Linked DNA regions of Homo sapiens. The protein of the gene in region 1 interacts with the protein of each later gene in a biochemical or structural test. Each region holds a gene or a part of one and is shown on either strand. Other genes may lie near its edges.

Region 1 (5,058 bases):
ATCAATTATTGTATAACTATTTAGAATTTTACCTTTGGATTATAAAATATGTTTTATATAAAGTGTTTTATGGGCAACTGAGGTAGAGAATTGGGATAAATTTTTCCTTTGTAAAAATTAGTATTTAAAAAATTATCAAGAAATACAGGTGATTTTATAAAAATTGGAAAAAACAGAAAAGTAGAAATAATAAAAATAAAATAACCAGAGCCTAACCACAGACAAGCTACTGTTGACATGTCGGTGTATAAGGAATTATTTTCTTTCTTAAAAATCTCGAGTATTTTAGATGTATATTAAAGCATGTATGTAAAGTGTGTCTAAAGTACAGTACAGTGAATAAGCCACCGAGTTTAGGAAAGGAATGTTACCAATACTGTCAAAGCCCAAGGTGTTCCGTGTTCAGTCCTTTCTTCTTGTCCCTGCTGGAGGTAATCACTGTCTTGAATATTTTAAATCACTTTCTTGCTTTTTTTTTGTTTTTTTTGTTTTTTTAAAATATAGTTTGTTTTTAAGGAAGGATAACCAACCTACCAAAAGATAACAGAAATTATAAGCAAATGATTTTATGAATTTTAACAAATGAACATGCCTTTGTAACCACTACCCAGATCAAGAAACACAACATTCATAGCACCTTCATAGCTTCCTGTGTGCCCCCTCCAAATTAATACACTTCCCCAAAGGTAACCAGTATGCTGACTTTTGGAAGTTTTTAATGAATGGAATCATATAGTATATGCTCTTTTGTGTTTTGTTTTGTATGTTTTAAGGCCATGTCTTTCAGCGGTCACATACTTAAAATTATTACATTTTCCTGTATGATTGACCCATTTATTATTATATAATGTGTCTTTTTATCTTTAGTAATGTTTCCTGCCCTAGGCTCTACTGTATCTATATCAGCTTTCTTTCGATGAGTTTTTGCATGTATATCCTTTTCCATTTAGACATTTTTGTATACTTACATTTAAGTCATGTGTCTTGTAAAACAGCATATAGTTGAATTTTAATTTTTCAATCCAGTTTGATAAAACTGTCTTTTAATTGGAGTATATAGTTCGTTTTTTATTAAGGTAGTTAGGATATGTTCGTGTTTCAATCTACAGTTTTGGTAGTTTCTATTGCCTTAGTATTTGTCTTTTTTCCTCTCCTTTCTTGTCTTCTTTGGATTAATCTGTTGCTTTCCTATTTGCTTTTATTCTCTATAGGCTTGTTAGTTATACATTTTTCAATTATTTTCTTAGTGGTTATCCTAGAAATTATAACATACATCATTGGCTTACTAGAATAATATGTTTATCACTTCTTGGACAATATTAGGACCTTAAACACTAAGAGTCTTTATATGCTATTGTTGTTATATATTTACCGTTTCTATTGCCCTTCTTTCCTGTAGGTCTCCAGCATTATCTTTGGAGTTACTTTTCTTCTGCTTAAAGAATTGTCTTTAGTGTTTCTTTTAGTGAGGTCCTGCTGATGATACATTCTCTCAGTTTTTTTTGTCTCTGAAAAATGTCTTTTTTTTGCCTCCATTTTTGAATATTTTTGCTGGGTGTAGAATTCTAAGTTTACAGGTATTGGTTCCCCTGACCTCCCAACACTTTAAAGATATTCTGATTCCATGGTTTCTGTTTAAAAATATCATTTCTCAGGATTATTATTGCTTCTTTGAAGTTAAAATGTCTTTTATCCTCCTCTCGCTGTTTTTTAAGTCATTGGTTGTTAGTATTTTTTCCGTGTGTCCAGGTTTGATTGAGTGTAATATTTATCTGGCTTGGGGTTTGTAGCATTTGTTGAATCTGTGGCTTGATGTCTTCTGTCAATTTTGAAATATTTTTGGCCAGTTTCTCTTCAGATAATGTTTCTGTACCGTTTTCCCACCTCTTCTGAGACTCCATCCCATAGATCTTTTTACTACATCCCATGTCTCTTTTTTTTTTTCCTGTATTTCTCCTACTTTGATTTTCTTTATGCTTAAATTGGATACTTTCCACAGATTAACTTCCAGGTCTCTCTTCTGCTGCATTGAATCTGCTTTTAAGCCTACCAAGTTATCTATTTATTTAAGTTATAAAATTTATATTTTATCTTCATTCTTGTTATTTTCTAGTTGTCAGGTGAAATTCTTTACCTTTTTTTTCTTTGAATGTATTGATCACAGATGATTTAAAGGACTGTGCCTAATAACTCCAATATCTTGATTATCTATGGGTAAATTTTGTTTTCTGTTTTTTCTCCCTTGGTGTTTGGTTCTGCCTTTTGACATGCTTGATTTTTTTTTTTAGTTGATTGTTGGACATAATATGTAAAAATTTATTAAGCTCTCGATGCTATTTTTTTTTCAGAGAGAATTTAATTTTCTTTCAGAAGGCAGTTAATGTAGGGATGGATAACCTTAATCCAATTTAGCATTGATATGATTAGAGACTAATTTTTGTTTTTTTTTTTTTTGTATGTCCTGTTCTATTTTTTTTTTTTCCTCCCTTTATTCTTATGCTCCTAGGACATAGTCCCTTGGAGATCTTGACTTAAAGCTAGGGTTGTTTACCAGGCCCATCTCTTTCGTGGTGGAATCTGGACTCCAAATTTTGGCCCCCTAGCATAGGAGTACTTTCAGAGGGTTTACTTAGTTTCTTAGGCTCTTACCTGTTGCTCTCTGTTTAGTTTCTTAGCTTGTCACAGCACAGTTTAGGGTCTAAAAATCTCCCAAGGAAGAAAGAAGTAGAGACTATTGACTTTGCCTCAGTATATTTGCTTTCTCTCTGAGATCTTTGCCCTTCAAGCACTCAGTTGCTCTTTACTACTTTTAAACAGCTTGTTTGTTTTCTTTAAATTGAGTTTTTCTAGTTCTCAGTAGGAGTTTTAGTCCTATAGAAGCTATTTCGTCATTGTGGAAGTAGAAGTTACAATATATGTTTCATTTTGCTTATTTTAAAAATCATATATATGGCCTTTTTTTCTTTTTGTTTTTTTACTGAGCTCTGTTTCTAAGATTCATCCTATTTGATTAACTCTAATTCATTTTCACTTTTGTAGTGTTATTTTGTATATCATATCTACACATAGCTTCTAATTACCACACACAACCAAGAAAATCATACCCTCTTTTATTGGTTGATTTATTGACATTCAAGTTATTGTTACTGCAAAGTACACATCTCATGCTACATGGTAAATATTAAACTTCATGAGATCATGGTATTTTCATATTTTAAATTTCTATACCTGGGAGTGCCTTATATCAGGGTCCCCAGTGCTTGGGGTGCGGATTCTGGTGCATGGCCTGTTAGGAACTGAGCTGCGCCCAGTGCAGGGTGAGTGGTGGGTGATCGACCATTACTGTCTGAGCTCTGCCTCCTGTCACATCAGTAGTAGCATTAGATTCTCATAGGAGCACAAACCCTATTGTGAACTGTGCATTCAAGGGATCTAGGTTGTGTACTCCTTATGAGAATCTAATACCTGATTATCTGAGGTGGAACAGTTTCATCCCGAAACCATCCCCCAACCTCGGTCCATGGAAAAATTGTCTTCCATGAAACCAGTCCCTGGTGCCAGAAAGGTTGGTGACCGCTGCCGTATATACAGTAGGTGCACAGTAATGTGTAGGCAGTATATCTTTGGCAGTGTTTTCAGTATTATGATAACCCTGAATATACTAGAAAAATTAGTCATCGCCATTTACCATTTAAGTATAATGGATTCTTTTTACTTTAAAAAATATTTTAAAGCCCTTTTGTGAATAATGTGCAGACGAAAGAATAAAGGATAGTGAAAATTAACTTCACTGGAAATTTTACTAAGAATTTGAACACTGCAAACCCAAATTTTAATTCCATGTATTCCAAGTTGAAGATAATGTGTGCTCAAATATGTCAGTGTCCTCTGTAACTGCTTTTGACCCTTGAACAATGTTGGGGGTTAAGGGCACCAAGTGCCAGCTCAGTTGAAAATCTGAGTATAACTTTCAACTCCCCACAACTTAACTACTAATAGCCTGCTACTGACTGGAAGTCTTATCAATAACACAAATAGCCAATTAATACATATTTTGTATGTTATATGTATTATATACTATATTCTTAGGATAAACTAGAGAAAAATATTAGGACAATCATAAGGAGAAAATATGTTAACTGTTCATTAAGTGGAAATGGATCATCATAAAGGTCTTCATCCTTCTTCATGTTGAGTAGGCTGAAAAGAGGGAGGAAGAAGAGAGATTGGCTTTGCTATCTCAGGGGTGGCAGAGGTAGAAGAAAATCTGCTTATAAGTAGACCTGTGTACTTCAAATTTGTGTTGTTCAAGGGGTCAACTGTATTTACTTGTCAGTTGTCATGCTTGAATCTGGCACATGTGCATCGTGTAAATAACTGATACTAGATTTTAGATACATTTCTAATAGGTTCTAGCTTGTAATTACTTCTGGTTCTTCTTGTATTTGTATCATCAAAATGCAATACTAATTCCAGATCTCAAATACACCACTGATAAGTCTTGGCTTATCATTACTTCTGTACACATATTACCAAATTCAAATACATTTGAGAACTTTGAGAGTCGTAATTTGGTTGAAGAAAAGACGACCTTTCTTCATAATTGCATGCTCTGTAATTGCAAAACATTTTAATGAATTTTTTTCATTTTTACATCATCTGTTTCCTTTTAAGTACTTTAACATATGTACCTGCCTTCAACGTTTGTCCACTTATGAACCATATTAAGTAAATTTTGGTGTACAAACGTCATAAAAGATGGAAGAATATTATCACACATTCTTTAAGGATGTCCAGGTTTTTGTCATGAAATAATGTAATTTGAAGTCCTTCCTAATAAATGACTAAGTGAGGATACCATATTTTCTTTTTTTTTTTAATTAATTTTTTTTTGAGATGGAGTCCCACTCTGTCACCCAGGCTGGAGTGCAGTGGCGTGATCTCGGCTCACTGCAACCTCTGCCTCCTGGGTTCAAGCAATTCTGCCTCAGCCTCCCTAGTAGCTGGGATTACAGGCACTCGCCACCACAGCCAGCTAATTTTTGTATTTTTAGTAGA
Region 2 (4,279 bases), on another chromosome or scaffold:
GAATTCAATCAAAGCCTCTTTGGTATTTCCCAAACCAGATTTTTGATAAATGAACATTATCTACTCTGAACGCTTTTTCATCGAAATTCCCAAATAAAAGCAGAGCACTCATTTTTGCTAAATAGAAATACAACTGATCTATGTAAAATTTTTTAAGAAATGGTTTCTTTTGGGTTGAGCCTTTTTTAAGAAAAGGGATCTCCCCTTTGCAAACAGGCCTTGATAAGATGTAATGAACTTTGAGGACACAGGGCCAGCAACTAGAACCTTGATGGAACAGAGATTGCTTTTCAGGAGTGACAGTTGTTAAGCTAAATCCTTCCACAAGCTTGCAAGCTAAGACTCCCAAATAAAGGCTTTGGAATTTTTTAGCTAGAAGGCTGTTCAAACAGCGGAGACCACATACAATGAGAATGTTCCTGAACTGAGAAACTTCAGGGAACTTTCAAAGGCTCATATACTTCACAGTTTCTTCTCACCTGTCCCAGCATCAGAATAATTGATAGGATTCAGATAAAAGGGGGCGAGGAAAGAAGCTGAGGTGCTACAAGCCCGTCATCATTTTCACAGTTGAAGCTTAAGACAGAGTTCTCTGTTGAATGCTAGCTATGGGCATGTGTGGGAGTGAGACTCCAGGGGGAGTTTCAGAAGCGGGAATCCCGCCTTCCATCAGAAGGGTGTTGGCTCCCACCTTCCATCAGAAGGGTGTTGGCTCCCACCTTCCATCAGAAGGGTGTTGGCTCCCACCTTCCATCAGAAGGGTGTTGGCTCCCACCTTCCATCAGAAGGGTGTTGGCTCCCACCTTCCATCAGAAGATGCTGGCCCAGGGAAACCTGAAAGGCTTCTTTTTCCAGGAAAGCATTCTGGTCCCAGGATGCAGACTGCTCTCGGGCAACAGAGCAGGGACCCTCTTTTGTGTCGAATCCGGGCAATGGGCCTCGGTTTTGGCTTTTCCTGAGGATCTGGGATTCTGTGGGAGAAAGGAGGTCCTCTCTGGCACCAGGCCGACTTTTATGAGACACAGCCTGGGTACGGATGGCAACATCATCAATTTGCAAGGATCGCGCACACAGCCCCTCAGTAAAAGATCAGGGAAAGGGGAGGGGATGGGCATCCTCAATTGTCCAGGGGCCTCTCGAGACGCTGACCTGCTCTGGGGACGGTGGTGCCTGCCTATTGCTCAATTTCACACTTCAATAAATAAATACATAAATAGGTATAAATAAACAGATAAATACAGCCATCATCTCATGAGAGCAATAACTAAAAAACAGCCTACGGTCACGTTTTAGTCTCACGTCAAGGTTAAAAACTGCTGGTACTAAGTTATCCTGTTTGTGATTCTCTCTGTAAACTAGTTATTTATAAACGCCAGATCCCAGTCCTGAGGAGTTTTGGGTGATCTGGCCCTGCCTATTTCACAGGCTTTCTCTTTCACCCTTCCTCCGGGCTCCTGGTTTAAAAGCCACCAGCCTGTAACTGCACATTCTTGCGTCACAGATTCAGAAATGCTTTTGCTTGAGGCAAGGATTGGTTTCTTAAGATCTTACGACTCCTCCCTGAATGCTGGGCCACCTGCACCTTCCCTAGCCAAAAAGAAAGAAAAGGTAAAATAAAAAACAAAACAAAATTCGAGCAAAACAAAATCAAATTTAATGGTCTTAAATGCAAAAGTAAAAACAAACAAAAAACACAAAAAAGCAAAAGAAAATTAACAGAACAGAACAACCCAAAATGTCAAGGCAGTTATGAAGAGAACTTTGAGGGTTAATCTTTAAAACTACAAATCAAAGGTTTTGGTTAATAGATAACTGGCAAGAAGTAAGTACTTTTCTGCTGAGTGTTCATACAAAAGCAAAATTCCAAAACAAAATCCGACTAAAATAGAAAAAGGTCTAAGCGCTCACGAGAAGGGATGCGAGAAATACAATGCTCAAATGTTTCTGTGTTATTAAAATACAGAGCCATTTTACGCCTCCAAGCTATGTTAAATGCTCTGGAAAACGGGAGAAATTATCGTGAACAACAGTATCCAATGTGTGGGGCGCTGTGCATGCAATGTGTGGACAGAAACTCGGGATGTCAGAGTAGCAACACATCTTCAGGCGTGCCTGGAGCTTAGATCTGACTCTGGAATATACTGGAGTTTCCCTGAAACTCTTTGGTCCATTCCCATTGGTGCCTGGGCTTACGAAACACGTTTGTGTCCTTCTCTGGAGGGCCCGCCCAGCATGCAGCCCGTGGCCCCCGGCCCCAGTGGTGGCCCACGCTGGACGGGCCCGCCGCCATTCCCAGGACCACTCGGCAGAGCCCGGGACTGAGTGAGCAGGAGGTGGCAACGGGACCTGCCTGGAAAAGGAACTTCCTGTCAACCAAAGCATACATCGCTTACAATGTTGAAGCGGTTGAGAAAACGCACACTCAGCATCTGTCTAACATCTTTAGATTAAAAACTAAAACTAAAAGGTGATTTTTTTGCTACCCAGTCTGTGGAGACATTGAATGAAACGCGTGTTAGACAGTCTTAGAGGTTAAAGCATGCTTCAGGTTCACCACCATCCAGAGGGACTGGTTAGTCAATGCAGTTCTACTTAGATTTCTGTTTAATATATATCTTAAAGGAAATAACTTACGAAACTTAAGATTGGTCTAACATTGTGGGATTTCAAACATTTGAACATGTCGGTTGCATCCCAGAGTATAAAAACCTTCTCACTTCTCATTCAGACAAAGACAAACACTTGTGAAAATTGGCGCAAAATGAGTTGTACACTAACAAGAAAAGTTTCAACTCCTTCACTCTTAATTATCTATTCCGTACAAAAAAAAGCATGAGCGAGTTATTTGTGGGACTTGTTGGTTTTGAAGGAAACCTGTAAGATTTTGTCCCCCAGGCGGTAGCCGTTCAGGCTGGCTATGGCCATCGCGGCTTCTTCATAGTTTGTCATGGTCACAAAGCCAAACCCTTTGCACTTGTTGGTGTTGAAGTCGCGGATCACTTTCACATTGGTGACGGCACCAAACGGCCCAAACATCTGCCAGAGGATCCCCTCGTCGGCATCCTGCCCCAGGTTGTAGATGAAAATGCACCAGCCGGAGGAGGCGTTTCCTGGCACGTTGACGCCAGAGAGCCCGCTCATGTGATCGACGCCCATGGGGGAGAACCTGGCAGACAGAGAGCAAGCGTCAGGCCACGGTCAGCGCAGGCGGCCTGGGGATGGGGCAAGGCCTGGACGCATGCTGACCATGGCCGCTGGGCCCCATCCCGCTCTGCGCAGCCACGAGGTGCTCACGGTTGAGACACCTGCATGGGTCAAAACCCTGGGAGGAATTAAATACAGTAGTGGAGGGGCGGGACCCTGTTCTGTAGGGAGCTGACTCTGAGGGGCTGGTTGGTGCCCTCCACTCCTCCCACTGTGTATGTCGGGGTTTCTGTTTAGGGGTTCCTGCGGTTCCCCACATTTTAGATGATGGGCGCTTCTCCTGGTCCTCCGTTGAAGGTAGAAATGCTCTGCAGGCCTCTGACAGCCTCAGTTCTCCCTGGAGGAAACTCTCCTCGTACTGTGGGGTACGTGCAGGGGCTGAACTCCTTTTTCCAAATTTTGCACCTTCCCCTTATCATGACCCGCCCCCAAGCGTTGACAGCCCAGTGGTCTCTGGTTAGAGCACGCCTTTGCCAGGGCCACTTGTAGGGCACAAGAATTCCTTCCCAAGCACCAGGCAACCAACCCTCTGTGGCTAGAGCTCAACATCCCCTGAGGGTCAGGGGCCAAACCACTGAGGACTGAGAACTCAAGGGACAGGGAAGGGCCCTGGGACACCAGCAACGGCAGGCTCACCAAACTTGACCACACACGTGGGGCTCTTTCCACAGTGATACTTTTATTTACATAAAAAATAAGCCTTTCTGGGCCAGGCATGGTGGCTCAAGCACGGAATCCCAGGACTTTGAGAGGCCAAGGTGGGAGGATCACTTGAGGCCAGGAGTTTGAGACCAGCCTGGGCAACACAGAGAGACCCCATCTCTAGGAAAAAAACAAAAACCTCAGAAAACAAAAACTAAACTAAACTAAAATAAAATAAAGCCTTCTGAAAATGTACAGATGCTGTAATAAGGATTAAGGTATATGACAAAACAGTTCCTAAAGCTATGTTTCCCTCTGGAACTTTCTCACATTAAAAAAGTAAAGGTCTGAGGGTCAGTTTGGGAATATCTGAGTAGCATACATTTGTGAAGCCGGCATCTGTGAAGCTGCGTGATGCATGCAGAGAAGCATT

Evidence for each region. The genes of interacting proteins can lie anywhere in the genome.
Region 2: the proteins of RCHY1 (region 1) and ELAVL1 form a complex in vitro, tested with the Homo sapiens proteins (one study listed by BioGRID).

What each region holds. Positions count from the first base shown.
Region 1 is NC_000004.12:75,503,527-75,508,584, reverse strand, and holds part of RCHY1 (RING finger and CHY zinc finger domain-containing protein 1), read left to right. Parts: intron 1-5,058. UniProt on the Homo sapiens protein: E3 ubiquitin-protein ligase that mediates ubiquitination of target proteins, including p53/TP53, TP73, HDAC1 and CDKN1B. Mediates ubiquitination and degradation of p53/TP53; preferentially acts on tetrameric p53/TP53.
Region 2 is NC_000019.10:7,960,642-7,964,920, forward strand, and holds part of ELAVL1 (ELAV-like protein 1), read right to left. Parts: intron 3,167-4,279; coding exon 2,842-3,166; 3' UTR 1-2,841. UniProt on the Homo sapiens protein: RNA-binding protein that binds to the 3'-UTR region of mRNAs and increases their stability.